2 separate regions of the Homo sapiens genome follow, and region 1 is linked to region 2. Evidence: fine-mapped expression QTL. Tissue or cell type: whole blood. Region 2 holds a variant in brackets; the other region holds the start of a gene. All regions are shown on one strand. Distances are between the middles of the regions.

Region 1 (2,611 bases), 280 kb before region 2:
TCCCAAAATAATGGGATTATGGCCACCGCCCCTGGCCCTGTTTGGTAGTGGTCTAAATAGTCTGAGTCAGGCAATGGGACCAGGTAGGCTTTCAGTCTCTTGCTTAAAAATGGAGATTGTTGGCCGGGCACGGTGGCTCACGCCTGTAATCCCATCACTTTGGGAGGCTGGGGCGGGCGGATCACGAGTTCAGGAGATCGAGACCATCCTGGCCAATATGGTGAAACCCCGTTTCTACTGAAAATACAAAAATTAGCTGGGCGCGGTGGCGCGCGCCTGTAGTCCCAGCTACTAAGGAGGCTGGGGCAGAAGAATCGCTTGAACCCGGGAGGCGGAGGTTGCAGTGAGCCGAAACCGCGCCACTGCACTCCAGCCTGGAGACAGAACGAAACTCCCTCTCAAAAAAAAAAAAAAAAAAAAAAAAAAAAAAGGAGATTGTTGGCTAGGTACGGTAGCTCACGCCTGTAATCCTAGCACTTTGGGAGGCCGAGGGAGGCAGATCACGAGGTCAGGAAATCGGGATCATCCTGGCTAACAAGGTGAAACCCAGTCTCTACCAAAAATACAAAAAATTAGTCGGTGTGGTGGCGCGCGCCCATAGTCCCAGCTCCTCGGGAGCCTGAGGCAGGAGAATTGCTTGAATCCGGCAGGCCGAGGTTGCACTGAGCCAAGATCGCGCCACTGCACTCCAGCCTGGGCGACAGAGCGATACTGCGTCTCAAAAAAAAAAAAGGAGATTGTCAATACGCGGTTATACAATGTCTAAATGCTGGGCTGTTGAATGCCACTGACAGTAAAAAATATCTGTGCATAGTGGCAAGCCATAAGTAGCACCTCAGTCACCGTATAGTAATTAACTGCGTATCCTGGCATCCCGACAGGCAACCAGCTCTACCGGGTGAAAAGGTTGATGGCCAAGGGACTCCAACCTAACCAGGGCGCACTCGCGGCATTCTGCGATCCCGCACTGCATCATGGACTTTGTAGTTCAACATGCCAGTGACGTCACTGCCGGTTCCCCTCTGAGTGGGCCTATCGGGTAGACTTCCGATAACCCGTTTTTCTCTGGGAATTGTAGTCAGTTAGCGCCTGCTGGGTGTCTGCTCGGGTGGTCTGGGAACTACAATTCCCGGCGGGCTGTGAGATGCCTTGGCTGTAGTTAGTAAGGAGCCGGATGATTGCCTCAGCAGGTGTGAAGCGTGTGCTTTAGTTTCGTGGGAGGCCTGGCATCCCCGAGAGGGAGGGGAAAGGTAACCACTCCTTTGTGGAGGTCGCCAGGGTCATTGTCGTGGATTTGCACAGTCGGCTGGGCGGTGCAATGGCGGTGAGTTTGAGCGAGAAGAATCCGCAGGGGCCCTGGAGCCGGACTGGCCAGTCTCTAGGGGCTCTCCATGTGCTGTCCTGAAGGGAAAGTCCTTTTCTAAAAGAGAGCCACGCTTAAGGCGTGCCTTTCGTAGAGACTTTGCTTTTTCTTGCTAGTTTATGAACCACGAACTGATGTCTGTTAACTTTACGGAGTACTTGGATATCATATTTGTTATTTCTCTGGAGTTTCTAAAATCGAGGTGGAGAGCCGGGCACGGTGGCCCACGGCTGTAATCCCAGCACTTTGGGAGGCCGAGGCGGGTGGATCATTTGAGGTCAGGAGTTCGAGACCACCCTGGCCAACATGGTGAGACCCCGTTTCTACCAAAAATACATAAATTAGCCGGGCGTAGTGGTGCGCGCCTGTTAACCCAGCTACTCGGGAGGCTGAGGCAGGAGAATTGCTTGAACCCGGGAGAGGGAGGCTGCTGTGAGCCAGGATCGCGCCACTGCACTCCAGCCTGGGCGACAGAGTGAGACTCCGTCTTAAAAATAAAATAAATAAATAAACAAACAAATAAAGCCGAGGTGGAGAGAGGAGTATGTAAGTTGATTCCTACTTACAGCAAAAAAAAAAAAAAAAAAAAAAAAAAAAAAAGAAAAAATTGAGCGCCTCTCCGTAAAACAGACAAAAATCTCTCTTTTCATAGTGTTTATGTGTGTGGGTAAAATACATTGTAAAATATTGTGTCAGGTGCTGATAAATGCTGTGGGGAAAAAATAGAGCAGGAAGGGGTGCTAGGGAGTGTACGGTGGGGTAGTACAGTTGCAATTTTTAAAAATTTTTTTAAATTTGGGAGATGTTCTCACTCTGTGACCCAGACTGGAATGCAGTGGCGTGATCATGGCTCACTGCAGCCTGGACCTTAGGGCTCAAGCGATCCTCACACCTCAGCCTCCCCACAGCTGGTACTGCAAGCGTGCTCCATTACACCCTGCTAATTTTTTGTATTTTTAGTAGAGACAGGGTTTCGAACTCCTGGGGTCAAGCGATCCTTCTGTCTCAGCCTCCGAAAGTGCTGGGACTACAGGCATGAGCCATCCCGCCTGGTTTTATTTTTTTTTGTTTTTTGTTTGTTTGTTTGTTTTTTTCTTGAGACGGAGCCTTGCCCTGTCGCCAGGCTGGAGTGCAGCGGCGCGATCTCGGCTCACTGCAACCTCCTCCTCCCAGGTTCAAGCGGTTCCCCTGCCTCAACTTCCCGAGTAGCTGGGACTACAGGCGCGCGCCACCATGCCCAGTTAAATT
Region 2 (2,766 bases):
CTTAGGATAATGGCCACCAGCTGCATCCATATTGCTGCAAAGGACATGCTTTGGTTCTTTTTTATGGCTGCATAGTGTTCCACAGTATATATGTACCACCTTTAAAAAATACAATCCACCACTGATGGGCACCTAGGTTGAATCCATGACTTTGTTATTGTGAATAGCCCTGCATTGAGTGTGATGAAGTGCATGTGTCTTTTGGTAGAATGATTTGTTTTCTTTTAGATATATACCCAGTGATGGGATTGCCAGGTCCAATGGCAGCTCTGATTTAAGTTCTTTGAGAAATCTCCAAACTGCTTTCCACAGTGGCTGAACTCATTTACATTCCCACCAACAGTGTATAAGCATTCCCTTTTCTCTGCAGCCTTGCCAATATCTGTTGTTATTTGACTTTTTAATAATTGCCATTCTGACTGGTGTGAGATGGCATCTCACTGTGGTTTTGATTTGCATTTCTCTCATGATTAGTGAGAATGAGCATTTTTTCACATGTTTGCTTGCTGCTTGTATGTCTTCTTTTGGGAAGTGTCTGTTTGTATCTGTATTAGTCTGTTTTCACATTGCTGTAAAGAACTACCTGAGATTGGGTAATTTATAAAGAAAAGAGGTTTAATTGGCTCACAGTTCCTCAGGCTGTACAGAAAGCATGACTGGGGAGACCTCAGGAAACTTACAATCATGGTGGAAGGCAAAGAGGAAGCAGGCACATCTTACATGGCCAGAACAGGAGGAAGAGAGTGAAGGGGGAAGTGCTACACACTTTTAATCAACCAGATCTCGTAAGAACTCACTATCAGGAGAACAGCAAGAGGGAAATCCGCCCCCATGATCCAATCACCTCCCACCAGACCCCCTCCTCCAACATTGGGGATTACAATTCAACATGAGATTAGGGCAGGGACACAAACCCAAACCATATCAATATCTGTTGCCCATTTTTAATGGGGTTGTTTTTTGCTTGCTCCATTGTTTAAGTTTCTTATAGATTCTGGTTGTTAAAACTTTGTCGGATGCAGAGTTTGTGAATATTTCCTCCCATTCTGTGGGGCTGTCTGTTTACTCTATTGATAGGTTCTTTGGCTGTTCAGAGCTGTTTAATTTAATTAGGTCCCATTTATCAGTTTTTGTTTTTGTTGCAATTGCTTTTGAGGATTTAGTCATAAATTCTTTCCCAAGGCCCATGTCCAGAATGGTGTTTCCTAGGTGTTCTTCTAGGATTCTTATAGTTTGAGGTTTTACATTTAAGTCTTCATCTTGAGTTAATTTTTGTATATGGTAAAAGGTAAAGGTCCAATTTCATTCTTCTGCACATGGCTAGCAAGCTCTCCCAGCACTATTTATTGAATAGGGAGTCTTTTTCATGTTGCTTATTTTTGTCAACTTTGTTGAAGATTATTAGATGGCTGTAGACGTGCTGCTTTATTTCTGGGCTCTTTATTTTGTTCCATAGGTTTATGTATCTGTTTTTGTATCAGTACCATACTGTTTTGGTTACTGCAGCCTTATAGTATAGTTTGAAGTCAGGTGATGTGATGCCTCTGGCTTTGTTCTTTTTGCTTAGAATTGCTTTGGCTATTTGAGCTCTTTTTTTATTCCATATGAATTTT[A/G]GAATAGTTTTTTTCCAATTCTGTGAAAAATTATGTTGGTAGTTTGTTATAAATAGTGTTGAATCTGTAGATTGCTTTGGGCAATAAGGTTGTTTTAGTGATATTGATTTTTTCAATCCATGAGTATGGAATGTTTTTACACTTGTTTGTGTCATTTATGATTTCTCTTGGCAGTGTTTTTAGTTCTTTTTGTAGAGGTCTTTTACCTCCTAGGTTAGATGTATTCCTAGGTGTTTTATTTTTTGTGTGGCTATTGTAAATGGGATTGTGTTCTTAATTTGGCTCTCAGCATGAACATTACTGGTGCATAGAAATGCATAGTACTGACTTTTGTACATTGATTTTGTATCCTGAAACTTTGCTGAAGTCAGTTGCAAGAGCCTTTTGGTGGTGTCTTTAGGATTTTCAAGGTCTAGAATTGTATTGTCCACAAAAAGAGATAATTTGACTTTCTGTCTTCCTATTTCGATGCCTTTTATCTCTTTCTTTCGTCTGATTTCTCTGGCTAGGACTTCCAGTACTGTGTTGAATAGGAGTTGTGAGTGTGGACATCTTCAAGTTCAAGGGGAATGCTTCCAGTTTCTGCCTATTTAGTATGATATTGGCTGTGAGTTTGTCATAGATGGCTCTTATTATTTTGAGGTATGTTCCTATGATGCCTAGTTTCTTGAGAGTTTTTACCATGAAAAGATGTTGAATTTTATTGTCCTTCCTGTCTATTGAGATAATATGGTTTTTGTTTTTAATTTTTTATGTGGTGAATTACATTTATTACTTGTGTATGTTGAACCAACCTTGCATCCCAGGAATGAAGCCTATTTGATCATGGTGGATTAACTTTTTAACATGTTGATGAATTTAGTTTGCTAGTATTTTTTAAAGGATTTTTGTATGTATATTCATCAGGGATATTGGCCTATAGTTTTATTTTGTCTGTCAGGTTTTTGTATCAGGGTGATGCTGGCTTTGTAGAATGCATTAGGGAAGAGTCCCTTCTACTTGATGTTTTGAAATAGTTTCAGTAGAATTGATGTGGTGCCAGCTTTTCCTTGAACATTTGGTAGATTTGGCTGTGAATCCATCTGGTCCAGGGCTTTTCTTGGTTGGTAGGCTTTTTTTTTTTTAATTACTGATTCAATTTCAGAACTGATTC

What was found. PIP is the estimated chance that this variant, and not a neighbour inherited with it, causes the effect.
Region 1: it holds the start of LARS1, and the variant in region 2 is fine-mapped to the expression of LARS1 in whole blood (TOPMed, PIP 0.96).

Annotation. Positions count from the first base shown.
Region 1 is chr5:146,181,201-146,183,811 of GRCh38, reverse strand. LARS1 (leucyl-tRNA synthetase 1) reads left to right here and starts at 1,162. Exons shown (of 32, transcript NM_020117.11): 1 at 1,162-1,324. The coding sequence starts at 1,319. RefSeq lists enhancers at 1-570, 1,479-1,638.
Region 2 is chr5:145,898,259-145,901,024 of GRCh38, reverse strand. It overlaps a transcript of GRXCR2 not described here. Among named protein-coding and RNA genes, the nearest start is that of GRXCR2, 27 kb to the right of the region's middle. The variant A/G (reference allele first, on the strand shown) is at 1,614.